4 separate regions of the Homo sapiens genome follow, and all the other regions are linked to region 1. The links come from fine-mapping of genetic effects on gene expression. A gene starts in region 1. Each other region holds a variant in brackets. All regions are shown on one strand. Distances are from middle to middle. Region 1 holds the start of ZNF169 (zinc finger protein 169). Region 2 overlaps LOC100132077 (a long non-coding RNA gene). Region 3 overlaps ZNF169 (zinc finger protein 169). Region 4 overlaps FBP1 (fructose-bisphosphatase 1).

The links. PIP is the estimated chance that this variant, and not a neighbour inherited with it, causes the effect.
Region 2: its variant is the best candidate, but not a certain one, in a credible set for the expression of ZNF169 in skeletal muscle (FUSION, PIP 0.87).
Region 3: its variant is the best candidate, but not a certain one, in a credible set for the expression of ZNF169 in tibial nerve (GTEx, PIP 0.76).
Region 4: its variant is the best candidate, but not a certain one, in a credible set for the expression of ZNF169 in nasal epithelium (TOPMed, PIP 0.87).

What each region holds. Positions count from the first base shown.
Region 1 is chr9:94,255,333-94,263,312 of GRCh38, reverse strand. It overlaps ZNF169 (zinc finger protein 169), which reads right to left and starts at 4,015. Exons shown (of 5, transcript NM_194320.4): 1 at 3,968-4,015. It overlaps LINC02603 (long intergenic non-protein coding RNA 2603), which reads left to right and starts at 4,002. Exons shown (of 3, transcript NR_160773.1): 1 at 4,002-4,202. RefSeq lists enhancers at 2,558-3,203, 3,533-3,662, 3,204-3,850, 3,693-4,012, 3,851-4,496.
Region 2 is chr9:94,349,945-94,357,924 of GRCh38, reverse strand. The region is part of intron 2 of LOC100132077 (a long non-coding RNA gene); the gene reads right to left. Among named protein-coding and RNA genes, the nearest start is that of SLC71A2, 21 kb to the left of the region's middle. The variant G/T (reference allele first, on the strand shown) is at 3,856.
Region 3 is chr9:94,291,434-94,299,413 of GRCh38, reverse strand. ZNF169 (zinc finger protein 169) reads right to left here. Exons shown (of 5, transcript NM_194320.4): 3 at 6,947-7,073; 4 at 6,345-6,440. Among named protein-coding and RNA genes, the nearest start is that of NUTM2F, 33 kb to the left of the region's middle. The variant T/C (reference allele first, on the strand shown) is at 3,607.
Region 4 is chr9:94,609,660-94,617,639 of GRCh38, reverse strand. FBP1 (fructose-bisphosphatase 1) reads left to right here. Exons shown (of 7, transcript NM_000507.4): 4 at 7,579-7,719. Among named protein-coding and RNA genes, the nearest start is that of FBP2, 20 kb to the right of the region's middle. RefSeq lists an enhancer at 7,166-7,665. The variant A/T (reference allele first, on the strand shown) is at 2,729.

The DNA.
Region 1 (7,980 bases):
AATTCATCAGGAAGATATAACAAAGATAAATATGTATGCACCTTATAATAACAATGCTTCAAAATACGTGAAGCAAAAATTGACAGAACTCGATGGAGAAATTGGCAATTCCATAATCCTAGTTCGAATTAACACCTTGCCACAACAGTTGATAAAATAACTAGAAAAAAAAATCCATAAGGAAATACAAGATTTGAACATAATAACTAACTTGACCAAACTGATATTAGCTCATCACTGCTCAACAGAATGCACATGCTTTTAAAGGGCCCATGGTACATTCCCCAACTCACACTACATGCTGGGTTGTGAAATAACTCCCAATAAATTTGCAAAGACTGACATTCTACATCATTTGTTCTTTGACCTGAATGGAATTAAATAAGAAGTCAGTAAGAATAGCTAGAAACCCTCCAAATACTTGGAAATTAAATAGATGATGCACAGAAAGGCACTGCATTCATCAAGTGCATGCAATTTTTTTGATGACTTTCACTGTAAAAGGGAGCAGAGAGATAGGGTAATGAGTGTAGTCAGAAATCATGACCCTTCTCAGCCAAGCGAGGTGGCTCACACCTGTAATCCCAGCACTTTGGGAGGCCGAGGCAGGCGGATCACGAGGTTAGGAGATCAAGACCATCCTGGCCAACATGGTAAAACCCCGTCTCTATTAAAAATACAAAAAAATTTAGCTGGGCATGGTGGCGCACGCCTGTAGCCCAGCTACTCAGGAGGTTGAGGCAGGAGAATCGCTTGAACTTGGGAGGCAGAGGTTGCAGTGAGCCGAGATCGCACCACTGCACTCCAGCCTGGGCGACAGAGTGAAACTCTGTCTCAAAACAAAAACAAAAACAAAAGAAAAGAAAAAAAGAAATCATGACCCTTCTCTTGTCAGAACCCGGCAGTAGATCTCGCTGACCTCAGATAAGATCCACACACAATCTTGGCACCCTAGGCTTTCCCCAGTAATAGCCTAACCCCCTTTTCCCATCTGAGTTTCTATCCTCCATGAACTTCCTTTTCCAGGCAAAAAAGACAACTGATACCCTCAAAGTCAGTCAGTTGCACAGTCCAGGTGGGTGCCAAGCACTGTGTCAGTGACCCATGAGGAGCCAGACAAGGTGCCTGTCCCCTCAAAGAACTATCTCAAAACCAGTGGGACAGTCAGACAGTTGAGATATACCATGCCAGCCGTGGAGTCCTCATATAATAAAGTGCTCTGAAACTAAAAAGGACAATGGAAGTAATTCTGCCAGAGAAAACTCAGGAAAGCTTTGTAGTGGACAAATATCTGTAGTGAGGCAACTTTTGAGACAAATACGGAAACAACACAGCCTGAATAAGTGATACTAAATAAATTCTGTTAATTTTCTTGGGTATGATCATTAATGCTGAAGTTGTTTTTCTTTAAATTCCTTATTTATGAGAGATGCATACTGAACACTGAAGTATTAGATTGGTGCAAAAGTAATTGTGGTTTTTGCCATTTACAGATGAAATGATATGACATTTGAATTTTGTTTTAAAGAACTACATCAGAGAAGTGTCATACACAAGTTTTACTTCGTTCTACATTCACAGCAGCTCCACGAGGTTAAGTACCTTGCTCAAAGTGACAGTGACAAAGGGAGAGACCTGGATTTGAACTCACTCTATGAAGGGTCACTCAAGACACCAAATCCTGGTATAGACCCCTAGTGAAAGAGACAATTTCCAAAGAGATCCACACTTGGGGTTGCAGATTTGGGGGAAAGAAGACAGGTGAGTCATTTGTAAGTGGTGAATCTGAGTGATGAATCCATGGAACTTCAAAACTACTTCTGGATATCTTTGCAATGTTTTCATACTGAGAAGTTAGAAATAAGAGTAGGTCTTGGCCGGGCGCAGTGGCTCACGCTTGTAATCCCAGCACTTTGGGAGGCCGAGGCCGGTGGATCAGGAGGTCAGGAGTTCAAGACCAGCCTGACCAACATGGTGAAACCCCGTCTCGAGCGGGGTGCGGTGGCTCACGCCTGAAATCCCAGCACTTTGGGAGGCCGAGGCGGGCGGATCACGAGGTCGGGAGATCGAGACCATCCTAGCCAACATGGTAAAAACACAAAAATTAGCCAGGTGTGGTAGCGCGTGCCTGTAGTCCCAGCTACTCGGGAGGCTGAGGCAGGAGAATACCTTGAACCCGGGAGGCGGAGTTTGCAGTGAGCCGAGATCGCGCCGCGCCACCCCACTGCACTCCAGCCTGGCGACAGAGCAAGACTCCCTCTCAAAACAAACAAACAAACAAACAAACAAAAAACAAACCCCGTCTCTACTAAAAATACAAAAAAAATTAGCCGGGCGTGGTGGCGGGCGCCTGTGGTACCAGCTACTCAGGAGCCTGAGGCAGAGAATTGCTTGAACCCGGGAGGCCGTGGTTGCAGTGAGCTGAGATCACTCCACTGCACTCCAGCCTGGGCGACAGAGTGAGACTTCATCTCAAAAAAAAAAAAAAAAAAAAAAAAAATGTAGGTTTGGATGCCTTCCACCCAACTTCTTCCCCCACCTCCAGGAATTCAAGGAGTCACTCAACAGCCCCCTGAGGCTTGAGAAAAATGTTCCTTGGCCCTATGGGCACCATTCTGCTTGTTGCAACCCATGCTCCCGGAAGGGTCCCCAAGTCCGAGGGAGCCACACAGCTGCAGAAGCCGACAATCTGGATACAAGCACGCCCCCATGCAACCCACAACCCAGGGATGTCTAACTCCAGGCAAGCCCTTCTCAACTCACCAACTTGGGTCCCCAGGCCCCAAGGCTACTGACCCGAGTCGCACGGCCCTAGCCGTCCCCCCCCCCACTATCAAGACCAAGTCTGGATGTCTACCCACAAACAATCCTCCCCCACAAACCCGGGTCCTAGTGGCCAAGCTGCACCATCACCACCACAGTGCACCAGCCATCCACAAGAGCCCTAATAACTGGACTGAGGTTGGGCACGGTGGCTCACGCCTGTAATCCCAGTACTTTGGGAGGCCGAGGCGGGGGGATTACTTGAGGTCAGGAGTTCGAGACCAGCCTTGCCAACATGGTGAAACCCCGTCTCTACTAAAACACAAAATATTAGCCGGGCGTGGTGGCGTGCGCCTGTAGTCCCAGCTACTCGGGAGCCTGAGGCAGGGGAATCACGCCACTGCACTCCAGCCTGGGCGACAAGAGCGAAACTCTGTCTCAAAAAAACAAAACAAAACAAAAACCAAAAAATTAGCCGGGCGTGGTGGCGGGTGCCTGTAATCCCAGCTGCTCGGGAGGCTGACGCGGGAGCATGGCTTGAACCCGGCGGCTGGGGTGGGGCGCGGAGATTGCAGTGAACCGAGATTGCGCCACTGCACTCCAGCCTGGGCGACAGAGAGAGACTCTGTTTCAAAAATAAATAAATAAATAAATAAAATTTAATAAATAAACAAATAAACAACCCGACTGATGCCCAAGCCGCGTGCCTCCCACTAATGGGGAAGTTTGCTCCAACCGAGGATATCATGTCCTCCAAAGGCACATTTGCTGGCCCAGAGACCTCCGAGGCGCGATGGTGGGGAGGGGATGGCGGGATACTAGTGGCAGGATGCTGTCTGGGTACCCCAGGCAGAGCCCACTCAGCGGCCCCCGAAGTACCGGGGACGCACCTGCGAAGTAGCTCGGGAAGTCGGTCCCAGGCCTGCACTGGCCCCTCCAGGTCAACATACTGGGCCCAAAGTCCCGCCAGAAGCACGCGACAACGCCAACGCCCCCTCCCCACCAGAGGACCTCCGCCAAGACCTCTCTCCGGGGTGGACCACGCACGCCCAGACCCCACAGCCGAAACTCAAAACACCAAGGAACATGTGGCCACGACATGGACTGCCCATGCCAGCTTTCCCGACCTTCCTTCCAGTGGAAGGCCCGCGAAAGCGGGGACCACCTCCGGGCTAGCTCACCAGAACTGTGAAAGGACACTCACCACGCACCAGGCGACGATGCCGGAACGCGGAAGTACGCGAGCCGGACTGCCCCTGGGCACGGAACTACACTACCCAGACTGCCACGGGGCGCGCAACTACCCTACCGTGGATGCCCTGGAGCGAGGGACTACAACATCCAGAATGCTGCGAGGGGCGGGACCGCAGCATCCAGGAGAAATTGTGAAAAATCAGAAAGTAAAATCTAACTTTCGGGTCTATGAGAAGGGTGGTCAGGTGAGCAGTAAGTCTTCTTTAACTTTTTATACGGTCCTTCTAATTTTTTTTTTTTTTAAAAAGATGTTACATGTCCTCCATCCTGCAAATTCACACCTGTGATTGTACACCCCTGAACTTTATCTACTTACTTATTTTTTGAGAAGGGGTCTTGCTCTGTCGGCCAGGCTGCAGTACAATGGTGTGATCATAGCTCACTGCAGCCTCAAACCCCTGGCCAAGCAATCCTCTCACCTCAACTTTCTGAGTAGCTGGGAATACAGGTGCATAGCACCACACCGGGCTAATTTTTTGTTTTGTTTTTTAGAATCTGGGTCTCGCGGCCGGGCGCGGTGGCTCACGCCTGTAATCCCAGCACTTTGGGAGGCTGAGGCGGGCGGATCAGAGGTCAGGAGTTCGAGAGCAGCCTGGCCAATGTGGTAAAATCCCGTCTCTACTAAAAATACAAAAATTACCTGGGCGTCGTGATGGGCGCCTGTAGTCCCGGCTACTCAGGAGGGTGAGGCAGGAGAATCACTTTGAACTCGGGAGGTGGAGGTTGCAGTGAGCCAAGATCGCACCACTGTACTCCAGCCTGGACAACAGAGTGAGATTCCTTCTCAAGGGGGAAAAAAAAAAAAAAGAATCTGGGTCTCGCTATGTTGACCAGGCTGGTCTGGAACTCCTGGCCTCAAGCAATTTTCCCACTTCAGGCTCCCAAAGTGCTGGGATTACAGGCGTGAGCCGTCCTTGTGGCCCAGGCTGCCTTTCGAGTTTATTTAGGGCCCTCTAGCCAGAGGTGGTGAGATTGGCAGTAACTCAAATTCCAACTGCTGGGATAGGTGATTCTCCTCGGGCTAAGGCTGGTGTAAATACTCCCTCCATGCGTGAGAATCAGCTGTGTTTGATCCAGTTTTGCTTTCTGGTATAACAGGGCAGCACTGAGTTCAATGCAATGTCTCATCATTGCTGTGCTTGCCGTCTCCCAAGAACATAGATTCTCTCTCCGCACCACAGAGCCACTGCTGGGGGATGGGTCAGGGGCATTGGTGATTCAAGACTGTCTTTCCTACCTTTTCAGTGCCTCTTTCAGTCATATGAAGTAAAAACCAGGTACTGCGAGTGCTTACCTGATTTTTGGTTCTTGTGAAGGTGCTTTTGTGTGTAAATAGTTGTTAACTTGTTTTTCTTACAAGGGGGAATGATCAGTGGAGCCTTCCATTCCACCATCTTGCTCCACCTCCCACCCCCATGTTTTAAATGACAGTGTGTATGAATGTACTTCTAAAAATGCCAAAAATACTGGGGTTTTTTTTCCTGTTATAAAGAAGAAGATTCTGAAGTTTTTTTTTTAATTCCAATTGATTACAAGAAGATAAGGAAAAACTAAACTTGAGGACATTTAACACTATAGCAATTAAAGTTATCTTACTAATGCAAAGATTGTTTATTAGATGTAACAGAATAATACGCTCAAAAACATACCAAAGTCTTTGCAAAATGAGTTATACTCTTTTTCTAAGAATTTGATAAAAAGTGGTATTTTTAAGTTACTTCCTATTTGCTTCTTCTCAAAATGAAGTAACAGGAACCAGATTTAGCCCTTCACCTTAATCAACATTTAAAAGGACAAAATATATGAAACATTTGAAGACATTTGACATCAGACAATGAAGAGCAGTGGAAATCATGGAGGTGAGCCTTTGAACTTCCCGCAGATGGAGAGAATTTCCAAGTCATAGCACAGAGAAGGGAAACTCAAGTGAAGCATGGAGTTCAACTTGAGGAGATGGAACTGGGAATCTGAGGAGGCATATGCATCTAGAGTTCACAGGGCAGAGTACAGAAAGGGAGAGAGAGCGCCAGAGATGTGCAGAGAGTCCTCTTCCTCAGGTATTAGTTAAGTGCTGACCAGCATGTACATGTGAGGAAACTCCTCAAAATTAGGGGTAAAAAACACTAGAAAGGGTTAGAGGGCAATACTGTGAGCTCAAAAAGAACAGGAATAATGTCTGTTCCCACGAGACAGAGTGGAAATGCTAATTCACATGGCATCAAGTCATGTACTCGGAAGGGTTTTGCCTCAATAGTGGGGCAAAAATTAACCTAAATGCTTCTCTGGTCTCACCTAACAGAGCTTAAATCCAAGCCTAGAAAGGACTGAATTGTTCCCAAGTAACTTAACTGCATCCCAGATAAAAAGCTCAAGAATATTTAAAAGAATACAAAACTATCCAGCATCCAATAAGGCAAAATTGGGGACTTTTTTTTTTTTTTTCTATTCTTACACCTGCTTCCATCCTAAGACCCTGGATTTTAGAATTCCAATTAAAAAAATGCTAGCATGCAAAGAATATATTCCCCAAAATGAAGAGAAAAGTCAACCAATAGAAATTACACAGAAGATATAATTAAAAGGTAAGGACACAAGCTGGGCACAGTGGCATGCGTCTGTAGTTGCAGCTACTTAGGAGGCTGCTTAAAACGATTGGGACAATTGCTTAAACCTAGGGGTTCCAGACCATCCTGGGCAAGACCCTAGCAAGACCCTGTCTAAAAAAAAAAAACCAAGATAAGAGCACTAAAACATTTATTGTAACTACAACTTCAAGAAGCTACAGGAAACACTTCGAGACCCTGTCTAAAAAAAAAAAACCAAGATAAGAGCACTAAAACATTTATTATAACTACAACTTCAAGAAGCTACAGGAAACACTTCAAGAAGGGTTTTTCTATACATCATGCCATACTGGATGGTATGATGATTAATTTTACATGTCAACTTGGCTACACTATAATGACCAATTATTTGGTAGTAGTCTAGATACTACCATGTAGATATCTTACATGTGTAATTAACATTTTCAGTCAGTTGACTTTAAGGGAGATTACACTCCATAATGTGGGAGGGTTTCATCTAATCAGTTGAAGGCCTTAACGGCAAAATCTGAGGTTTCCAGAGAAGGAATTCTGCCTTAAGACTCTAACAGAAATCCTCCCTGATGTTTTAGCCTGCTGTCCTGCCCCGTGAATTTTAGACTCAAGATTGCAATATCAACTCTTACCTGAATTTTCAGCCTGCCTGCCCTACAGATTTCAGACTTGCCAGCCCCTGCAATTGCATGAGCCAATCCCTTAAATAAATCAGTCACTCTCTCCCACTTGATAAACACTTGATAAACAGATCAATAGATAGAATATATATATGTATATATACACACATATATATATATATATATACAGATACATATATCCTATTAGTTTTTTCCTATCCTATTACTTTTTTCTTTATATATCCTATATATACATATATCCTACTCACTCTCTCTCTCTCTCTCTCTCTATATATATATATCCTATTAGTTCTATTTCTCTGGAAGACTTTGACTGACACAGTTGGTATTGCAGCAGACTGGACATTTCAGGGGAAAAAGAAGTTAGCCTGAAGACATGGAAGGGGAAACTATTCAAAGTAAAACAGGGATAAAAAATACTCAAATGAAAATTATGTGATGAAAATTATAAGCCAACAGATTAAAGCATCTCAGTGAAGCCTATGCAGAGGAAACATGAAAATAACAACACCAAGGTACAACTGCTTAAAAGCAGCTATAAAGAAACTTGTTTTAAAAAGCCAGAAAGAGGAGACATATTATGTACAAATGAACAAAGATAACAGCAGATTTCATTCAATAAAAAATGCGGCCGGGCACGGTGGCTCACGCCTGTAATCCCAGCACTTTGGGAGGCCAAGGCAGGTGGATCATAAGGTCAGGAGTACAAGACCAGCCTGACCAAC
Region 2 (7,980 bases), 95 kb before region 1:
AAAGCAGTCTAACCATCCACAAATGTTAGCTAGATGGTAAGCCTCCAACTCTCAATAATGAACCTGCCTACTGAGGGAAACACAGCCAACTCCAAATATAATGGGATTTTCTTGTGTTGTTTGTTTGTTTGAGACAGGGTCTTCCTCTGTCTCCCAGGCTGGGGTGCAGTGGCACCGTCTTGGTTCACTGTAGCCTCAACCTCCCGGGCTGACGTGATCCTCCTACCTTAGCCTCCTGAGTAGCTGGGACTATAGGTGTGTGCCACCACATCCCGCTAATTTTTTATTTTTAGTAGAGATGAGGTTTTGCCACGTTGCCCAGGCTGGTCTCAAACTCCTGGGCTTAAGGAATCCTCCGACCTTGACCTCCCAAAGTGCTGGGATTACAGGTGTGAGCCATTGTACCAGGCCAAAATTAGTTTAGACCAGATCAGATTGTCCTATTTAATAGCCTTTACTCTGAGATATTGGTTAAGCTCACAGAGCTGGGTCCCAGGCAAACTAACTGAGTCTAAGCCCCAGGGTGGTGGCACCTGCCCCAACCTCTGCATTGCCCAACCCTCACAGAGGCAGGAAATTCCTCCTTCCTGATGCTGCAATCAGTCCTAGTCAGTTTCAGAATCGGGGGTCATATGCAGATTACAAAAGGCCATCTTCAAAGAAGCTGCTTATAGATTTCATGAAGTTTCTTAGGAAGTAAAACTTTCTGACTTATAGACAGCAAATGGCTTCCAAGAAGAATAGTACTGCTCACATAATAGTGCAGTATGAGCTGGGTGCAATGGCTCACGCCTGTAATCCCAGCACCTTGGAAGGCCAAGGCGGGGGGATCACCTGAGGTCAGGAGTTCGAGACCAGCCTGATCAACATGGAGAAACCCCATCTCTACTAAAAATACAAAAAATTAGCCAGGCATGGTGGTGCATGCCTGTCATCTCAGCTACTCGGGAGGCTGAGACAGGAGAATCACTTGAACCTGGGAGGCAGAGATTGCAGTGAGCTGAGATCGCACCATTGCACTCCAGTCTGGGCAACAAGAGCAAAACCCTGTCTCAAACAAAACAAAACAAAACAAACACTGCAGTATAACCTGAAATGGGGTATACAAGCATCTTTTCACCCATGATAGGCCACTCCTTACAAGAAATCCCATTATTCATTTTAAAAAAGAAATGGCAGCCAGGTGTGGTGGCTCATGCCTGTAATCCCAGCACTTTGGGAGGCTGAGGCAGGCAGATCATGAGGTCAGGGGTCATGAGATCAGGAGTTCAAGACCAGCCTGGCCAACCTGGTGAAACCCCGTCTTTACTAAAAATACAAAAATTAGCTGGGCATGGTGGTGTGCGCCTGTAATCCCAGCTACTCAGGAGGCTGAGGCAGGAGAACTGCTTGAACCAGGGAGGCAGAGGTTGCAGTGAGCCAAGATCAGGCCACAGCACTCCAGCCTGGGCAACAGAGCAAGACTCCGTCTCGGGGTGGAAAAAAAAAAGAAATGGCTATGTTATAGTTTTGACAGTAAATAATTTGTAAGTCATTACTCTCATATGGTGAAAACATCTACTCTCCTATAATTGAAAAAAAACTTTTTTTTTTTTTTTTGAGACAGAGACTCTCTCTGTTGCCCAAGCTGGAGTGCAGTGGTGCAATCTTGGCTCACTACAGCCTCTGCCTCCCAGATTCAAGCAATTCTCCTGCCTCAGCCTCCCGAGTAACTGGGATTACAGATGTGCACCACCACGCCTGGCTAATTTTTGTATTTTTAGTAGAGACGAGGTTTCATTATGTTGGCCAGGCTGGTCTCAAACTCCTGACCTAAGGAGATCCTCCCACCTCGGCCTCCCAAAGCGCTGGGATTACAGACGTGAGCCACTGCGCCCAGCCTGAAAAAAAAACTTTAAGGAAGGTTTTTTAAGGTTCCTAGGGCTGGTTATTGCTGGAAATCATAAACAAAGTGACCATTTAAGTATAAGAATCATCTGTATATCTAGCCTAGCCAACGTGGTGAAACATCGTCTCTACTAAAAATACAAAAATTAGCTGGGCGTGGGGCATGGTGGCACACACCTGTAATCCTAGCTACTTGGGAGGCTGAGGCAGGAGAATGGCTTGAACCCGGGAGGTGGAGGTTGCAGTGACCAAGATCGCGCCATTGCACCCCAGCCTGGGCAAACTCTGTCTCAAAAAAAAAAAAAAAAAAAAAGAAACATCTGAATTTGACTTTTAAAATTATGACTATATATCATAATTCAATCAATAAATATGTTAAATGATTTTTTTCTATGAAGGATAAAGTAATATTTTCCCTAAAACCAATCATAAGAAGAAAAGTACTTCCTTTAGTGCAAAGTTATAACATAGGCCAGTGGTTCTCAAAGTGTGGCATAGGGAACCCTGGAGAATCCCCAAATCTTTTTTTAGAAGAACGGTCTATGAGGTCAAAAGTATTCTCAAAACAATACTGGGGCCGAGCGCAGTGGCTCACACCTGTAATCCCAGTACTTTGGGAGGCCGAGGCAGGCGGATCACTGGAGGTCAGGATCCCTGACCAACTTGGTGAAGCCCTGTCTCTACTAAAAATACAAAAATTAGCCAGGTGTGGTGGCAAACACCTATAATCCCAGCTATTTGGGAGGCTGAGGCAGGAGAATTGCTTGAACCTGGGAGGTGGAAGTTGCAGTGAGCTGAGATCACGTGAGTGCGCTCCAGCCTGGGCAAGAGTGAATCTCCATCTCAAAAAAAAAAAAAAAAAAAGATACTGGGAATGACTTGTCTAATTTACTTTCATTGTCTCATGAGTGTAGACAATGAGTAGAGCTTTGCTGAGCCTGTAAGATACATAGAATTACATATATACAATTGAATCCTGTGTCTTCTGTTAAGGCAGAAAAAATTCTTTGCAAAATTGTAAAACAATGTCATTCTTCTCACTATAACTTTTTTCTTTTGGAAATTCTTTTGTGAAGTTATTTTTTGCATAACTGTTATTTATGTTAACATTTTTATTGTATTCATGTAAACATTATTTTATATATTTTAATTTTAAGTTAGCCTACAGTAAAATTGACTTTTCTTGTGTACAGTTCTATCAGTTTATTATTATTATTATTATTATTTTGAAACAGGGTCTCACTGTCACCCAGGCTGAAGTACACTGGCATGATCACAGCTCACTGCAGCCTCCCCCTCCTGGGTTCCAGCGATCCTCCCACCTCAGGCTCCGAAGTAGCTGCGATTACAAGCATGCACCATCACACCGGGCTAATTTTTCTATTTTTTGTAGAGATGGGGTTTTGCCATGTTGCCCACGCTGGTCTTAAACTCCTTGGCTCAAGTGATCCTCCAGCCTCGGCCTCCCAAAGTCCTGGGATTACAGGCATAAGCCACCATGACTGGCCAGTTCCTGAAGTTTTAAAAAACACAGATTCATATAGCCACTGCTTCAATGCAGATACAAAAGAGCTCTATCACCCTAAGAAACTCCCTCGTGCTGCTCCCTTAAGGCCACATTCTCCCACTAACTCCTGGCAACCACCGATTTGTTGCCTAACATTTATAGTTGCATCTTTTTGAGGTTGTCATAAATGAAATAATACAATATGTAAACCTTTTGAGACAGGCTTCTTTCACTCAGAATGTTACCTTTGAGATCAATCAAGTTGCTGGGTCCCTTTTTTTGCCGGGTAGTCTTCCATTCACTGTATGGATGTACCAAAGATTACTTACTCATTTACCAGTGGGAGAAGTTTTCAGTGTTTCCAGTTTGGGGGTATTACAAACAAAGCTTTATGAAACACCGCTATACAAGTTTTCATGTGACCATAACTTTTCTTTTTTTTAATTTTATGGTTTTTTTTT[G/T]TTTGTTTTTTTTTTTTTGAGACAGAGTCTAGCTCTGTCGCCCAGGCTGGAGTGCAGTGGCGCAATCTCGGCTCACTGCAAGCTCTGCCTCCTGGGTTCATACCATTCTCCTGCCTCAGCCTCCCGAGTAGCTGGGACTACAGGCGCCCACCACCACACCCGGCTAATTTTTTGTATTTTTAGTAGGGAGGGGGTTTCACCGTGTTCGCCAGGATGGTCTCGATCTCCTGACCTTGTGATCCACCTGCCTCGGCCTCCCAAAGTGCTGGGATTACAGGCATGAGCCTCCGCACCCGGCCGTAACTTTTCATTTGCTAAGGTAAATACCTAGGAGTGGGACTGGTGGGTCATATAGTAAGTATATGTTTAACTTTATAAAAGGCTGCCAAGTGTTCTTCCAGAGTGACTGCATCATTCTCCATTCCCACCAGAAATGTGTGCAAGTTCTAGTTACTCCACATTCTCCACATCACTTGGTCAGGTCAGTTTTTCTATTTTAGCTGATGGTGTGGTGTCTCACTATGGTTTTTTTGGTTTGTTTTTTGGGAGGCAAGGTCTCACTCTGTCACCCAGGCAGGGGTGCAGTGGTGCTATCATAGCTCACTACAACTTCAATCTCCAGGGCTCAAGTAATCCTCTCACTTCAGCCTCCCAAGTAGCTGGGACTACAGCGGTATGCCACCTATTTTTTATTTTTAGTAGAGACATGCCCAGCTATTTTTGATTTTTAGTAGAGACAGGGTCTCACTATGTTGGCCAGGCTGGTCTGGAACTCCTGAGCTCAAGCAATCCTCCTGCCTCAGCTTCCCAAAATGCTGGCATTACAGGCATGAGCCACTGTCCCCAGCCTCACTATGGTTTTAATTTGCACTTCCTGATAGCTAATGATGTTGAAAATATTTTCTTGTGCTTATTTTCCATCGATATAACTTCTTTGATGAAGTATCTGCTCAAGTCTTTTACCCATTTTTTACTTAAACTCTATTTTCCTTCTGTTGAGTTTTGAGAGGTCTTTATATACTCTGAATACTAGTCTTTGTCAGATAAGTGATTTCTCAACATTTTCTCCAAGTCTGTGGTGTGTATTTTTATTCTCTTCACAGTGTATTTTGCAGAGCATGGGTTTTAAATTTTATGAATCCAATTTGTCATGTTTTTTAGTGGATCAGGCATTTGACATCATATCTAAGAACTTTTTGTCTAACTTCAGTTCATGAAAATTTTCTTCTGTTTTCTTTTTTAAATATTATGCTTTGAATTTTAACATTTACGTGTAAAATCAATTTTTAGTTAGTCTGTGTATAAGGTGAAATTTAGGTCAAGGTTCATTTTTTTGCAGGATGACTAATTATCCCAACACTGGTTTTGGAAAGACTGTCCTTTCTCCTTTGAATTACTTTTGCACCTCTGTCAAAAATCAATTGGTCATCACCTCATACCCATCAGAATGACTACTGTAAAACAAAACAAAAAACAGAAAATAATGAGTGCTGGTGTCAGAGGCATTTGAGCCAGAGCAACTCCATCTTGAATAGGAGCTGGGTAAAATAAGGCTGAGACCTGCTGGGCTGCATTCCCAGGAGGTTAGGCATTCTGAGTCACAGGATGAGATACAAGGTCAGCACAAGATACAAGTCACAAAGACCTTGCTGATAAAACAAGTTGCAGTAAAGAAGCCGGCCAAAACCCACCAAAACCAAGATGGTGATGACAGTGACCTCTGGTGGTCCTCACTGCTCATTTTACACTAATTATAACGCATTAGCATGCTAAGAGACACTCCCACCAGCACCATGACCATTTACAAATGCCATGGCAATGTCAGGAAGTTACTCTATATGGTCTAAAAAGGGGAGGAACTCTCATTTCTGGGAACTGCCCACCCCTTTCCCAGAAAACTCATGAATAATCCACCCCTTGTTTAGCATATCATCAAGAAATAACTATAAGTATACTCCAGTCAAGCAGCCCATGCCGCTGCTCTGCCTATGGAGTAGCCATTCTTTATTCCCTTACTTTTTTTTTTCTTTTTTGAGACTGAGTCTTGCTCTGTCACCTAGGCTGGAGTGCTGGAGTACAGTGGCGCAATCTTGGCTCACTGCAACCTCTGCCTCCTGGGTTCAAGCAATTCTCCTGCTTCAGCCTCCCAAGCAGCTGGGACTACAGACATGTGCCACTATGCCCAGCTAATTTTTGTATTTTTATGAGAGGCAGGGTTTCACCATGTTGGCCAGGCTGGTCTCGAACTCCTGACCTCATGATCCACCCGCCTCGGCCTCCCAAAGTGCTGGGATGACAGGCATGAGCCACCGTGCCCGGCCTATTCCTTTACTTTCTTAATAAACTTGCTTTCACTTTACTCTATGGGCTTGTGTGAATTCTTTCTTGGGAGAGGTCCAAGAACCCTCTCTTGGGCTCTGGGTCAGGACCCCTTTTTGGTAACACTGCTGAGAATATGGAGAAACTGAAACTCTTGAGCACTGTTGTCATGAGAATGTAAAATGGTGTAGCCACTAAGGTAAACAGTACGGTGGCGCCTCAAAAAATTAAAGAGAGAATTACACTATGATCCAGCAATTCTACTTCTGGGTGTATATTAATAATAATGTATGCTAAATAACATATACTACTAATAATAACCAAACTTGATTTATCCTGCTATACTCACCAACACAGAGTACTTCAGACACCAGATGTGTATGGGGTTCTCCCCACACACCAAGTAAGTAACCAGCTCTGCAGCATGGACACCAACTGGGTGTCCTCTAATTCAATTCAATTCTGACACTATCTACCTGGAGAGAGCATCAGATCCCACAGGTTGAGTGCTCAGTCCACAAGACTGCCCCCCACTTCCTATGCCAATTGCAAGCCCCAGGTTGCTTTACCTGCACTTCTTACTGACTGGCTATAAATGGGGGATCCCCACCTCTGGTCCGATTAATTTGCTAGAGTGGCTCACAGAACTCAGGAAGACACTTAACTTTTAACTTACATTTACCAGTTTATTATAAAGAATATTACAAAGGGTATTGATGAAAAGATGCCTAGGGTAAGAGATGAAAATAGACGTGGAGCTTTTATACCCTCCCAGGCATGCCACCCTCCAGGAACTTTCATGAGTTCAACTATTCAGAAACTTCCCACACCCTGTCATTTGCAGTTTTTATAGAAGCTTTGTTAGGTAGGCATAATTGATTAAACCATTGACCGCTGGTGATCAACTTAACCTTGAGCCCCTTTTTCCTCTCTAAAGGATGGGGGTAGGGCCAAAAGTCCCAACCGTCTAATCATTTCTGGTGACCAGCCCCCATCCTGAAGCTACCTAGGAGCTGCCAGCCATCTGGCAACTCATTAGCACACAAAAAGACATCACTTTGGAGATTCCAAGGATCTTAGGAGTTGTATGCCAGGAAATTGGAACAAAGACCAAATATATATTTCACAGTACAACAATACCCAAAAGAATTGAAAGCAGGGAATCGAACAGATATTTGTATACCCATGTTCATAGCAGCATTATTCACAATAGCCAAAAGGTAGAAGGAACCCAAGTGTCCATGCATGAATGAATGGATAAACAAGATGTTGTATACACAAACGAGAGAATATTATTCAGTGTTAAAAAGGAAAGAATTTCTGACAAATGGATGAACCTTGAGGACATTACATTAAGTGAAATAAGCCAGTCACAAATACTGTATGATTACTTATATGAGGTACCTAACATAGTCAAGCTTATAGAAAGAGAAAGTAGAATGCGGGTTGCCAGGAGCTGGGGAAAGGAGAAAGGGGCAGTTGTTGTTTAACGGAAATAGAGTTTGTTTTGCAAGACGAAAAAGTTCTGGAAATTAGCTGCACAACAATATGAATATATTAAACCATACTGAACTGTATGCTTAAAAATGGTTACGATGGTAAATTTATGTTACATGTATTTTACCGCAATTTAAAACAATTGGCCATATTTGTGAGGATCTATGTGTGGGTCCCATTCTGTTCCATTGATCTATATGTCTAAGTCTTCTCCAATACCACACTGCCTTGATTTCTGTAACTTGATAGTGTCTTTTTGTGTGTGTGTGTGTGAGACAGAGTTTCACTCTTGGTCGCCCAGGCTAGAGT
Region 3 (7,980 bases), 36 kb before region 1:
AGGTGCTATAAATAAGATCTTAGCATCTGAAGGGGAGCCATGCTTTGGGCTTCCTTGACTGTGGTGACTCAAGTAAGGGGCACCCACGAATCAGATAAGCTGTAGCAAGAGATACTGGCTCCTGTGTGGAATAGGCTTTAGGCCAGGGAGCTTCCATATCAGCCTGATGTGAGTTGTCTCCTGAACTGTATGGACACCCTTAAGTCCTCTTGAAGAAGAGGAATCCCTGATGCTGCCCTCCGGGCAAATGAAGGTGCTGTCCTCTAGCCTCTGGGAAGACTGCAGCCAAGTATATTCCCCGAATAGCATTGCACAACACTACGTACACTGTTTTGCTCAATAATCCAGGATTTTTAAAAAAATCTGGTGAATTAAGGAGAAGCTCAGCGTTTGAAAGTTAATAATAGATGACTTCTCATTAGCATAAAGATGTTTCAGGGATTATACATATTTCGGCTTAAGCATATTCTTATCCATGCACAAAAACTGTTAAAACTATACAAATTGACTTTTTCAAAAAATTTTGTTTCTAGGTTTAAATAGGCTGCCAATTGGAGATAACACTAATTCCCATGATGGTATAAATTAAAGGCTCTGGAAATTGGCAGTGCTTTCAGCTTCCGTAAGTTGATACCGTAACTCCTAGGTAATTATTGACTAAGTTCTTTTTTTTTTTTTTTTTTTTGAGACAGAGTCTCGCTCTGTTGCCCAGGCTGGAGTGCAGTGGCGTGATCTTGGCTGACTGCAACCTCTGGTTCAAGCAATTCTCCTGTCTCAGCCTCCTGAGCAGCTGGGATTACAGGCGTGCACCACCATGCCCGGCTAAGTTTTGTATTTTTAGTAGAGATCGGGTTTCACCATGTTGGCCAGGCTGGTCTTGAACTCCTGACCTTAGGTGAGAGACGGGGTTTCACCATGTTGGCCAGGCTGGTCTCGAACTCCTGACCTTAGGTGATCCGCCTGCCTCGGCCTCCCAAAGTGCTGGGGTTATAGGCATGAGCCACTGCGCTCGGCAGGACTAAGTTCTTATGAGTCATTATGGGACAGCCCTCAATAGAGAAGTCTGCTTTCATTATCTCTGAAATTGTTTGCTGTAGTGAATAAGCAAAGCATTTGGTAAGAGAAAAATAAGGCATTTTCTTATTCATGGCTAGTTTATCTTTTTTATCTTACTTTTGTTTAAAGACTCCTGCTTTTTAACTCAGATTAGAAATTGAGTCTCCTTGAACAAATTTTTTTTTTTTTTTTTAAAGGAGTCTCGCACTGTCGCCTAGGCTGGAGTACAGTGGCACTATCTCAGCCCACTGCAACCTCCACCTCCTGGGTTCAAGCAATTCTCCCACCTCAGCCTCCTGAGTAGCTGGGATTACAGGCGCACCTACTACGCCTGGCTAATTTTTTGTATTTTTAGTAGTGACAGGGTCTCACCATGTTGGCCAGGCTGGTCTCAAACTCCTGACCTCAAGTGATTCGCCTGCCTTGGCCTCCCAAAGTGCTGGGATTACAGGCGTGAGCCACCGCGCCCAGCCCCTGGAACAAATTTTTAAGAGCATTGATCAGAAATGTACCTGGCAAGTAGCAACCCATAGCAAGAAACTGAATCAGGGTTTCAAGTGCCCTATCAGAACAGAAGTGAACAATTTAATGGAATTAAACTACTTAACAGAAGACCCTTGGTTCAAGGCAGACGATTATAAATACAATACTGATTTATATGTTATTCTATTTGTTAACTATTTTTAATCACAAAATACGTATTTCTTATTTTTGACCATACTATTCCTAAGAAAAACTCTTTGTATCATTGATTAGAGTCAGTAAGATCATATCTGCAAGAGGGAACTTCAGCAGCTTTAGGGATTGCCATTCACATTCCATCTGGAATACAGAGAAGGTCCTTCATATTAAAATATTCCAGTGGAAAAAGATGTGAGTTTTGCAAGATTACAGCATACAAAATCACTATACATAAATCCATTTTATTTCTACATACCATCAATAAACAACTGAAAATTGACACTTAAAAATAGCATCAAAATATGAAATACTTAGGGGCAAATCTGACAAGAGATATGTAAGGCCTGTATACCAGAAATGACAAAACAATGCCGACAAAAATGAAAGAAGTCTTATGTAAATGGAGAGCTATACTGTGTTCACGTACTGTAAGACACAGTATTATTTATGTGTAAGTTCTCCACAAATTGATACAGATTCAACTCGATCCCAATCAAAATCTCAGCAGGCATTTTTGTTAAAAACTGACAAGCTGATTCTAAAATTCATATGAAAAAACAAAGAATAACGAAAAGAACTTGCAAAAAAAAGCAAAGATGGAGGATTTTTTATTTTATTTTATTTTATTTTGAGATGGAGTCTCGCACTGTTGCCTGGGCTGGAGTGCAATAGTGTGATCTCGGCTCACTGCAACCTCCGCCTCCCGAGTTCACGCGATCCTCCTGCCTCAGCCTCCCGAGTAGCTGTGATTACAGGTGCGCACCACCACACTCGGCTAGTTTTTTTTGTATTTTTAGTAGAGATGGGGTTTCACTATGTTGGCCAGACTAGTCTCGAACTCCTGACCTTGTGATCCGCCTGCCTAAGCTTCCCAAAGAAGATGGAGGATTTACAGTGAGTTCAAGACCTAATAAAGCTACAGTAATCAAAACTGTGGTATTGGCATAGAGACACTAACAGAGGAGTAGAAAAAACATAGAGTCCAGGTATAGACCTATCACATATGGTCAACTGATCTTCCACAAAGATACATAGGAAATTCAGTTAAAAAAGGGTAGTGTTTTCAATAAATGGTGCTGGAAAAATTGGATATTTGTATGCCCTTCCTCCCCTAAAAAAGTACATAAATTCAGATCTTTTATCAAGTATATTTACTCAAAATAGGCTTATAGACCTAAATGTAATTAAAAATTGTAAAATTACTAAAAGAAAAAAATGAGAATCTTTTTGACCTTACTTTAGACTAAAATTTCTTAAATACACTACCAAAACTGCAATTCATAAGAGAAAAGATTGAAAACTGGACTTCATCCAAATTAAAATTTCTCTTTGAAAGGCACTATTAAGATTATAGAAAGTAAACCACAGAAAAAATGTTTGTAAATCATATATCTGATAATGGACTTCTACATAGAATATGTGAAGAACTCTCAAACTCAATAATACAAAAATAAGAAACCACATTTTTAAATGGGCAAAAGATGTGAAAACGTACTTCACTAAAGAAGATATAAGATAGCAAATAAGCACATGAAGATACTCAACATCATCAGTCATTAAGAAAATGTTAAAACCACGGTAAGATGCCACTCACTACACAGCTATAAGAATGTCTGAAATTAATAACCAAGCCAAGTTTTGACAAATATGGAACACCTGGAGCTCTCATACACTGCTGTGGGAATGTGAAATGGTGCGGCCACTTTGGAAAGCAGTTTGTGAGTTTCTTCAAAAGTTGAATATATATTGTATCCATCATCATACAACCCAGCCATTCCAGTCCCAGGTATTTATTCAACAGAAATGAAAGCATTATATTCACACAAAAACTTGCATGCTTAAAACAGCTTTATTTATATTTGTCAAAAA[T/C]GAAAACCCAAATACCTTTTAATAGGTCAGTATTAAAATGTGACCTAGACATATAAAGGAATACTCAGCAATAAAAATTAATAAACTATTGATACACACATTATAGATAAAATTCAAAATACTTATGCTGAGTGAAGAATCCAGTTGTATCCTGTATAATCCAGTTATACAAATTCTAGAAAATGCAGACAAATCTATAATTATAGAAAGCTGATCAGTGGTTGCCCAGGTACAGGGGAGGACAGGAAGGAGTGGGAGGTAGGATTACAGTAAGGCGAAAGAAAATTTTCAAGGATGACAGACATGCTTGTTACTTTAGCTGTGGCAGTGCTTTCATGCATGTATACATATGCCAAAACTAACCAAATTTCACACCTATATAAGTGTAGTTTATTATACCTTAAAAAACATATCTTATAATATACCTTAATTGCTGTATCTTAATAACATTTTTATCATTATTTTACTTTATTTTTTTTTGAGACAGAGTCTCACTCTGTAGCCCAGGCTGGAGTACAGTGGTGTGATCTCAGTTCATTGCAACCTTCGCCTCCCAGGTTCAAGCGATTCTCACTCCTCAGCCATCCGAGTAGCTGGTATTTCAGGCATGCACCACCAGGCTCGGCTAATTTGTGTATTTTTAGTAGAGACGGGATTTTGCCATGTTGGCCAGGCTGGTCTCAAACTCCTGGCCTCAAGTGATCCACCCACCTCAGCCTCTCAAAGTCTGGGATTACAGGCGTGAGCCACTGTGCCCACCCCATTTTTATATAACGAAATGCTTTTAAAAAGACAAAAGCACTCAGTTGCTACATAGTGTAATACCAGCTATATAGTTACATTTAAAAGCAAAAAATAAAACAAAAATAAAATGCCAGGAAACCATGAAAATAAACAAGTAAGAAGATAAAGCAGGCAAAAATTTATTTCTATCTCCCAGCATTCATATAAAATTAATTCCAGTTAAAGACCTAAATGTTTCCATAATTTATATGGGATTTCTACAAATCAATAACAAAAAGAATAGACCCATTGAAAAGTAGGCAAACACCTTGAATGGTCAAATCACAGATGGGGAAACAGGAAGGGCCAAGCAACATATGAAAAGATGCTCATGCTCACTAGTAAGCAACTTAAAAACCCCTCTGAGATTTCACTTCCAGCTGAATAGATGGATAAAACATGAGGTCTCACAATCCCAAATGTTGGTGAGGATGTACAACAAGAATTCTCATAGACTCCTGCTGGGAGCATAAGCTGCCATGCCCACTTCAGAACACAAGTTGGCATAACTTATATAAGTTGAGGCTATGCATGCCTGTGAACCAGCTACTACACACCTAAGTATATATCTTTTTTTTTTTCTTTGTGAGATGGAGACTCGCTCTGTCACCTAGGCTGGAGTGCAGTGGCGCAATCTCAGTTCACTGCAACGTCCGCCTCCCGGATTCAAGCAATTCTCCTGCCTCAGCCTCCCAAGTAGCTAAGATTATAGGCATGCGCCACCACACCCAGCTAATTTTTCTATTTTTAGTAGAGACGGGGTTTCACCATGTTGGCCAGAATGGTCTCGAATTCCTGACCTCGTGATCCACCTGCCTCGGCCTCCCAGAGTGCTGGGATTACAGGTGTGAGCCACTGCACCTGGCCGGTATATATTTTAAGAGAAACTCTTGGACATGTTCCCAAGGAGGCATACAAGAATACAGAGCAAGATTATTTCATAGCCAAAAAGTTGGAAACAACTTAATAACATTATGTGCAGAGAAGTTTACAGACATGCAAAACAACACCCTATATGAGTGAAGAACCCATCAGATGGAATAAAAGGATAAAGACAGTCATGGAATGCTAACTCAGAAAACAGAGGCGGAGGAACGGGACACAATCAGGAAAAGTATGGGGCTATTACCTGGTTTTATAACATGCTATCTCTTAGGGTACAGGGCTGCCCCAACCCTACTCATTGTACAGTTTTTCACACCTTGCTGTAATCTTAAATAATCTATGATAAAAGAAACAAAGTTATGAGAATTTACAGGATAGAAATGATGCACAAAAAAGCTACCAGGTTAAGAATAGAAACTGGCTGGGCGTGGTGGCTCACGCCTGTAATCCCAACACTTTGGGAAGCAAAGGCAGATGGATTGCCTGAGCTCAGGAATTCAAGACCAGCCTGACCAATAAGGTGAAACCCCATCTCTACTAAAAATACAAAAAAATTTAGCTGGGCATGATGGCGGGCACCTGTAGTCCCAGCTACTCAGGAGGGTGAGGCAGGAGAAATCACTTGAACACAGGAGGCAGAGGTTGCAGTGAGCCGAGATCATGCCATTGCACTCCAGCCTGGGTGACAGAACGAGACTCTGTCTCAAAAAAAATAAAAATAAAAATAAAAAACCAGGGGCAGGGACTTAGTCTCAAAGGACAGGTACTGTTTTGAAGATCATGCCAACCACATGAGCCCAAGAATGGAGAAATCCTGAATGTGCTCGAGAAAGGAAGCCAAGTGAGGAGTGAGGCTCCCTGATGGAGGAAGGAGATGGAATGCCAGGGGTGCCCTGTCCTGGGGGGAGGCACACAGTGTGGAAGGCAGGCAGTGCCATGCAGCCTTTACCAGTGGCCTAGGAGGCCTGAAGAAGAACTTCCTCCTAGCACCTCAAAGATAGCCCCTCCTTCCTTACCTGCTGAGCTCCTCACTGCCCTGCACCCTCGCTTGCCCAGGGCTTCCCACTCACCTGGACAAAGGTCCAGAAGATGTTCGTTCTCCTCTCTCCAAGGTTCGTCGCCTTGCTCCAGCTGTTCGATGAGTTTTGGTTTGGAAAATGCAATTCCTACTCACAGGAAAAAAAAACCAAGGTGATCTTGAGTTAGTGGCTTAAGAGGCTATCTCAGAACTCAGAGCCAACCCAGGAATGCAATAAACCCAGAAGGTGGTAGGGAGGTGCAGGGGTGGAGTAAACTATGTCTGAATGCTAAGAAAGGATGCATACAGGGAGGGGATCCTAGACCTAAAGGCAGTATGTTGATTCTACCCTGTGCTTGAGTCAATAAAAATATTCCTCCTTTTGAAGGAGGATAACCTTAGAGGAGGAGCCCAGCCAGGGTAAACAGGCCTGAAAAATGCAGTGTCAGACACACCACACGCTCACAGCATGTGCACGCGCACACACACACACACACACACACACACACACACAACTGCACTGTGAAAGCCAGGCATTCTCTGGGGGAATAGGGGAAAAAACTGTTTTTCTGAGTCAGAAGCATGGCAGCTTGCTATGTAAGAGCTTAAAATACCCACAAGCAGAATCTGAAACCTTAAACAGGCCAGCCTTACCCAGGGAGACCAGATGGCTGTAGTTCTCCAGCATCACCTCCCTGTACAGGGTCCTCTGAGCAGAACTCAATAGCTTCCACTCCTTCTGGGTGAAGGCCACAGCCACATCCCGGAAGGCCATCAATGCCTGTAACACAAACACATCCCTGCTCACTCAACAGCCAGCCATGCCCACTAACCAACTTAAGCCACTAACCACAGTCAAGGCAGAAAGAAGCAGTCCTAGAGCACCCAAGTGAGATTTACAGATCCTGCTTTTAACCTGAAACCTGGTTCCATATATTCAAGACTATTAATCCCCTCCATACACTGATGCTGGTTCTATTTCTGGGCTCTCTGTTGTGCTGATCAAACACACAAGTTTGATTATCGCAGCTACATAGCAGGACTGGAAATCAGGTAAACCGATTCCTCTCACTTTATTCTTCATGTTGAAAGTTGATTTAGCTATTCTAAAATAGCCTGTGCCTGTGCCTTTCTATGCAAATTTTAGAATAATCTTGTCTATATCTCTAAAAGCCTTTGCTGAAATTTTGATAGGATTCCCATTAAACCTGTATATCAATTTGGTGAGAACTTACATCTTTACTATATTGGATCTTCAAATCCATAAACACAGTATGTCTCTCCATTTGTTTAGACCGTCTATGATTTCTTTCATCAACATTTTGTGATTTTCTGCAAACAGACCCTACACATTTTGTTAGATTTACACCTAAGAATTTCTTCAGCTTTCTTCTTTTTTTTAAGTAATTTTAATGGTACTGTATTTTAACTTCAGTGACCATATGTTCATGCTATGACATATGATACAATTGTTTGTCTGTTTTTTCTTCTATACGGCAAGCTGACTAAACTTTACTTAGCTTTAAAAGCTTTTTTTCCCTTCGTTCCTTGAGATTTTCTACATAGACAATCATGTCCTCTGCAAATAGGAACAGTTTCATTTCTTTGTTAATGATCTGTATGTCTCTTATTTCCTTTTCTTGCCTTATTGCTGTGGTTAGAACTTCCAGCGCTATGTTGAATGAGAG
Region 4 (7,980 bases), 350 kb before region 1:
CTCAAGTTCTGAGCTTTTCAGCACTAATTGCATGACGAAGACCCACTAGATTGTTGAAAGAGAATATAGGGTAAAATATGGGTGGGAAGAGAAGGATATTTCACTCTTTTTACTATGTCTTACTTTTTATGATAGAAAATGAGATTTAAAAAAGAGGCAGTAGAGGGTAAGTATAGTGATGATACGATGTGAACTCAGAGTTGAGAGTGTAAGACAACAATAGAGACTATGTCAAAACTGTCCTTTAAGTCCCCTAGTCAATGGTCTATAAGCTATGAGCCCCGGGCTGAGTCCAGCCTGTGGCCTAATGTGTACAGCCTGTGAACAAAGAATAACCATTTTTACATTTTTAAATAGTTGAAAAAAACTAAAGAACAAAGTTTCGTGATCCATTTTAAGTTTTACTCTTCACGAATGAAGCTTTAATTGGCATTTGGTCACATTCATTTTTTCACATACTGCCTTTGGCTGATTCTCTGCTGCACTGTCAAAGTTTTGTAGTTATGATAGAGACTGTATGGCCCATAAAACTGAAAAATTTACTATCTGTCTGTCTGTAGAAACAGTTTACTGAGCTTTGCTCTAAGTCGTAGAAAGCACACAGCATAGGATGAGAATCCAGCCCTGCTCGGGTCTCCTAACACCTGACTCGGGCAGTCACCCCTCCTCCAGAGCTGCTTTTTCTGAGAGAGAGAGAGAGAGAGAAAGAGAGAGAGAGAGAGGAGAGAGAGGAGAGGGAGGAGGAGGAGGAGAGGGAGGAGAGGGAGAGGGAGAGGTGCTCAATTATACGAATAAGTGAAAAATAGAATGAAAACCCATCCACCCATCAGGAAACATGATAAAATCCAAGGTACATCCTCTTAGCTTTAGCTCTTGTTTTGTTTTATTTTTTCAAAGTATATATTTTAGGCCGGATGCGGTGGCTCACGCCTGTAATCCCAGCACTTTGGGAGGCCGAGGTGGGTGGATCACAAGGTCAGGAGATTGAGACTGCCTTGGCTAACACTGTGAAACCCCGTCTCTACTAAAAATACAAAAAAACAGCCAGGCATGGTGGTGGGCGCCTGTAGTCCCGGGAGGCTGAGGCAGGAGAATCGCTTGAACCTGGGAGGTGGAGGTTGCAGTGAGCCGAGATCACACCACTGCACTCCAGCCTGGGCAACAGAACAAGACTCCGTCTCAAAAAAAAAAGTATATATATATATAGTTTTAACAGCTTTGGGGGGTACAAATAGTTTTTGGTGACATGAATGAATTGTATAGTGGTGAAGTCTGAGATTTTAGTTTATACCTCACGAGAATAGTATATATTGTATCCAATATGCAGTTTTTTTATCCCTCATCCCCTCCCATCACCCCCTTCTAAGTCTCCAAAGTCTACCATACCATTCTATATTCAGCTCTTGTTTATTTCAGAACTGAAACCTCACAGGCTGGAATCGACTGAAGAGGTTGGTTCAGCTGAACTCTGTTCTAGGACACAAAGGCATTAACTTAAGAACTGAGACCCTTGGCCTAGCGAGATGGCTCACGCCTGTAATCCCAGCACTTTGGGAGGCCGAGGTGGGCGGATCATGAGGTCAGGAGATTGAGACCATCCTGGCTAACACGGTGAAACCCCGTCTCTACTAAAAATTACAAAAAATTAACTGGGCATGGTGGCGGGCGCCTGTAGTCCCAGGTACTCAGGAGGCTGAGGCAGGAGAATGGCATGAACCTGGGAGGTGGAGGTTGCAGTGAGCCAAGATCGCGCTACTGGACTCCAGTCCGGGTGACAGAGCTAGACTCCGTCTCAAAAAAAAAAAAAAAGAACTGAGACCCAAATTTGCACTTTATCTCTAAAAGTGACTTATTGTCTAGTATTATACATAATTTCCTTTCAAATATGTGAAAAGTAGAGCCCCCATGGCACAGTTATCTTTGGTCATTGGAACGTATTTTGCTTTTTATCTTGGGTAAGAGGCAGATCCACATCACAATCAGTTTGAGGAATAGAAGATTCAAATTCTCATACTAGAAAGGCAAAAAGGCAACAATTTATCCATTTTCCAAGTCATGCCAAGGAACATACCATTTCTGTTGTAGACATGGAAGAATGCAATTTTCCTTGCAAAATATCAAATCCACAGAATAGCAGGAGAGGTTTGTAGCAAAATTCTTCCTTGCAGAGGAAGACATCTGGCTAATGTGTTAACCACAACTAAAGCAGTGTTGATGTTTACTAAGCCCATTCTCCATCTCAGTCCCCCCAAATAATACTTTTTAAGGAAAAAAAACCTGGGAAATTGAGAGACATTGGCTATCAACTAAAAAAAAAAAATCAAGCCAGCTTGCAACAGCAGCTTGAATTATGAATGACAGAATTCTCAACAATAAGGCTCGGCTGTCTTCTCAATGAACCAGAAGTGACTTTTTTAAAAGACAGAAAGTGGGGCCTGGTGCGGTGGCTCACCCCGGTAATCCCAGCACTTTGGGAGGCCCAGGCGGGCGGATCACGAGGTCAGGAGATTGCGACCATCCTGGCTAACACGGTGAAACCCCATCTCCACCAAAAATACAAAAAATCAGCCGGGTGTGGTGGCAGGCCCCTGTAGTCCCAGCTACCTGGGAGGCTGAGGCAGGAGAATGGTGTGAACCTGGGAGGCGGAGCTTGCAGTGAGCCGAGATCGCACCACTGCACTCCAGCCTGGGTGACAGAGCAAGACTCTGTCTCAAAAAATAAATAAAT[A/T]AATTAATTAATTAATAAAAAGAAAGTGATGATGAGTATGACACAGACCTCTAAGTCATTTCAGTTTTTTGAAGCCTTATTGATTGCTTGAAACAGCTGAAACCAGTTGAGGGCTCATGAGGCATAAACATAGACATCTATAATGCTTCCAAGGGGATTTTTCCTGCTTTCTGCAGAGATGATTGTTGGCTAGAATCGCACCATGGTGCCCACGCCCAGTGGGGCAGCATCAGTAACTGTGACCCTGCCATGGTGACCAGGCCTTGCTACACGATTCCTGGAAAGGCACGTGGAAGGATGTGTGGTCATGTTGCATGCAGCTCCTGCCACAGCATCTTTCCAGGGCCTACCGACTACTACTATTTCTTTTTTGAGACAGAGTCTCTCTCTGTCGCCCAGGCTGGAGTGCAGTGGCGCCATCTCAGCTCCCTGCGACCTCTGCCTCCCTGGTTCAAGCGATTTTCCTGCCTCAGCCTCCTGAGTAGCTGGGACTACAGGCGCCCACCACCACGCTTGGCTAATTTTTTGTATTTTTAGTAGAGACGGGGTTTCATTGTTTTAGCCAGGATGGTCTCGATCTCCTGACCTCGTGATCCGCCCACCTCGGCCTCCCAAAGTGCTGGAATTACAGGCGTGAGCCACCGCGCCCGGCCACGACTACTACTATTCTTTCTCTTTCTTCTCCCTGTCCCTCCCCCTTCTCCCTCCCTCCTCCTCCCCCTGCTCCTCCTCGTCCCCCCCTTCCTCCTCTGCCTTCTTCCCCTCCTCCTTCTCCCTCCTCTTCTTCTTCCTTTTCTTCCTTCTTCCTTTTTCTTTCTTTTTTTCTTTTTTTGAGATGGAGTCTCCTGTGTCGCCCAGGCTGGAGTGCAGTAGCACGATCTCGGCTCACTGCAAGCCCTGCCTCCCGGGTTCACGCCATTCTCCTGCCTCAGCCTCCCGAGTAGCTGGGACTACAGGCGCCCGCCACCACGCTTGGCTAATTTTTTTTGTATTTTTAGTAGAGACGGGGTTTCACCGTGTGTTAGCCAGGATGGTGGCAATCTCCTGACCTCGTGATCCGCCCGCCTCGGCCTCCCAAAGTGCTAGGATTACAGGCGTGAGCCACTGCGTCCGGCCTTTTTTTTTTCTTCTTTTTTTTCTTTTTTTTGAGACAAGGTCTCACTCTGTCGCCCAGGCTGAGAGCAGTGGCGCCATCATGGCTCACTGCAGCCTCACCCTCCCGGGTTTAAGCCATCCTCCTACCTCAGCCTCCTGAGTGGCTGGGACTACAGGTGCACCACCACACCTGGCTAATTTTTGTATTGTCTGTAGAGACAAGGGGGTCTCGCTATGTTTCCCAGGCTGGTGTTGAACTCCTGGGCTGAGGCGATCCTCCCGCCTCGACCTCCCAAAGTGTTGGGATTACGGGCATGAGCCACGGTGCCTGGCCCCACCAGTGTCTGGCTGGAGACATCCTGACAGGGCGAATTCTCCTGCAATGCTGGGTAACCATCATGGTTTGTCCAAATATTGAGTTGAAATCTGTTTCATTTTGCTCACTTGGCTGTTTAGAGCATAAGAAAATAAGATTCTTTGACATGTTTGGAAACAGTGTTTCTGCCCTCCCAATAATGCCCACCACACCCACTTTTTTTCCCTTTAAGCTGAACATCTTTCACAGGAGAGGGATCTGAGACTTCTCTCTAGCCTGATCACCCTCTACTGGACATACTCTAACTTGCAATGTCCTTTACAGCTCCCACCACAAAAGCAGAGATTCAGAAAAGTAGGGTTTGGTTTCTGCTCCGAGGAAAGACCACTGTGGACGTGACAGTCTCTCCTCCCCCAGGCCCTCCGTTTCTGTGCCTACTTCTCCTTATGTGATGACATGGAATAATATGTGATGACATGGAGCCAGTGCCTACAGCAGGTGGTGGCCTCAGATAGGCAGAGAAAGGAAGGGTCCAGAGGTTTCTGATTTTGCCAAGTGCTCCGTGCTCATTGGTCCCTGGGCATCTGCAGGAGAATGGAATATGTTTCCCTTGGAGGAAAGGCATGCATTGCTGAGCATTTGGAGGAAGGAATTAGAAAGGGGGCTGATCCCAGCTCTTTGGGAGGCTGAGGCAGGCGGATCACCTGAGGTCCAGAGTTCGAGACCATCTTGGCCAACATGGTGAAACCCCATCTCTACTAAAAATAAAAAAAAAAATTAGCCAGGCGTGGTGGTGGGCGCCTGTAATCCCAGCTACTTGGGAGGCTGAGGCAGGAGAATCACTTGAACCCAAGAGGTGGAGGTTGTAGTGAGCCAAGATTGTGCCACTGCACTCCAGCCTGGCGATAGAGCAAGACTCTGTCTCCAAAAAAAAAAAAAAAAAAAAAAAAATTGGGGGCTGGGCTAGAAAAGAATTCCTCCAAATCCATGGCTCAGTGGGATAATTTTCTCTTCGTTTTGAGTATGTGGGTCATAGACAAGTATTACTATTATTTTTTATTCCGTGCGAGGAAGTGTATAAATGTAGAGCATTTGGTGACCGTATGTCAGGGAAGGGCTGTTTACTTTTGCACCTTTGCCACAGGCCGGCACGGATGGTTCTGGGCGAGGTGAATCTCTGGGAAAAGGGGCCTTTATTGGCAGAGAACTGGTTACTTGAAGCCTGCAGTGGGAGGAGAGGAGAGTTAGAGTCCTGAGTCCACCCACTGTGTACCTGGCTTCAAGGGAAGCTGGTGATTGTTAAAATGAGCCTCTGACAGGCAGCGCATGTTGACAAAGGCCATTAATTTCATTTTTCAAGGTTGTGCATTGGCAAAACTTGGAATTATTCCCTCAAAGTTTTGATCCTGTAAGTTTAGTCTGTGTTTAGCTCCACTGTACTGTCTGGTGAATACAAACCAAACTGAATCAAATAACCCAGTGCAACCAGCTAACTAACCACCTCCCCAGGTGAAAACTAGGAGGGGCAGGGAAGCGGTGGAAAGAAATGGGTTTGTGGTTTTCTGGTTTGTGGTTTTCTCATTTATATGAGTAGTTGTTATGCTTGAATGTGAAGTTCTTACACTTGAGTGTGAAGGTCACCCCTTCACATTGCATAGTGCAATGCAGATTCTCAGGCCCCGCCATGGAAAGTCTGACAGTGTGTCTAGGCTGTAGCCCCAGAATATGCATTTCTTTTCTTTTTCTTAAAGAGGCAGGTTCTCATTCTGTCACCCAGGCATGTGCAGTGGAATGATAATGGCTCACTGCAGCCTCGACCTCCCAGGTTCAAGTGATCCTCCAGCCTCAGCCTCCTTAGTAGCCACAGGCACATGCCACCATGCCTGGCTAATTAAAAAAAAATTTTTTTTCGTAGAGATGGGGTCTCCCAGTGTTGCACAAACTGGTCTCAAACTCCTTGCCTCAAATGATCCTCCTACCTTAGCCTCCCAAAGTGCTGGGATTATAGGGATGAGTCATGACCCCGGCTGTGAATGTGCATTTTTAATAAATATCCCAGGTGATTCTAATGCAGGTGCTCTGTGGGCCACCCTTTTGAAAGTTATGGGAAGAAATTACCTGGAATGTTTTGCTGGGATGACTTCCTTCTCCAGCTGCGTGATACAGATGCCCCTGCTTACGCTCAGCTGCAGGAATCTAGGAAAAGAATAAGTGAAGTTCGAGAAATTGCATATTTTTATTTCTGCTTAATTCAAGCAGAGAGTAGTTAAGCTGAAAGATTTGTTTGGGGCTGTCTTGATGACCAAAGAGGTCAATCCAGTGTTAATAAAGAAGATCAGGCTGGGCGCAGTGGCTCACGCCTGTAATCCCAGCACTTTGGGAGGCCGAGGCAGGTGGATCACGAGGTCAGGAAATAGAGACCATCCTGGCTAACACGGTGAAACCCCCTCTCTACTAAAAATACAAAAAATTAACTGGGTGTGGTGGCAGGCGCCTGTACTCCCAGCTACTTGGGAGGCTGAGGCAGGAGAATGGTGTGAACCCGCGAGGCGGAGCTTGCAGTGAGCCGAGATAGCACCACTGCACTCCAGCCTGGGCGACAGAGCGAGACTCCGTGTCAAAAAAAAAAAAAAAGAAGAAAATCATTAATAGTAAGAAATCAGTGGTTAGGAGCTGTCTCCTTAAGGGGCTCCCTTCCCTAGTGTTAGAAAAACTCTGGACCACATGACCCAGTGGGCTGTGTTTTTAATGAAAAAATGGATTACGGCACATGCCACGTTCTAAGTGTAGGTATTATTTTGGTAACTTTTTGGTGTGTGTGTGGGGGCACTGGTTTGTGATGTAAAATGTGCTTCTTCCCATGCATCACGGTTAAAACACTGGACAGCATCTGCTCTACCCCATAATGACTCTGGGGAGATATTCTGAGTTCCTACGTTTCTGAGAATTTCCCTGACGTGTGAGTGATATAGACCACATGCTCAGCAGAGTATGGGCTGCAGCGGCAAGAGCTCACAAAACTGATTTCCTCCGCAGACTGGCTGCCCTGCAGCCCAGTGTTAATTTATTTAAATAAAGATGGAGTAGGCAGGTGACAGAGATGGATGCCCGTAATAAGATTAAATTAGTGGGAACTGGCAAGAAGGCATGCTCTTTTTTGGAACTGATAGTGGAGAGATGAGGGAATATCACATTAGAAAAATTGGAGGAGGGCCCTAATTGGAAAGAGGAATCCAGATGCAGGAAATCTGGGTTCTGGTGGGAAGGCTGCCGTGATAATCTAATCAGGATATTGCTGATGTGTAGGGGAAGGCCCCTCTGGGAAGATGCCCTATTTCATTAGAAGAGCACCTTGAGAATGCCTCCTGTTAATGGTTGAACTGTAAAAAAGAATCACAAAACAAAACAAAAACATTCTTTGATTTCTTTCTTGCTCTAGAAATCAACTGATGAGCCTTCTGAGAAGGATGCTCTGCAACCAGGCCGGAACCTGGTGGCAGCCGGCTACGCACTGTATGGCAGTGCCACCATGCTGGTCCTTGCCATGGACTGTGGGGTCAACTGCTTCATGCTGGACCCGGTGAGAGACCTCACAGGAGGCTGGGGGCTTGGCTGGTGTCTGTGAGCAAATGAATGATATGTGTGGGGGATTGGCAGGGGTATGTGGAGGTGGGAGGTGATGCCCATGGAGGGACAGAGATGATGATGTGTGGTGGAAAGGGGGCAGGAGACCAAGAGAGAGTGTATGCCTCCCGAGCAGACTATGGAGGTGAGAAATGCCATCTCAGACTGGCACAAGAGGGGGTCTTTGTTCCAATGTGAATTCCTCAGAGCAGCTGTT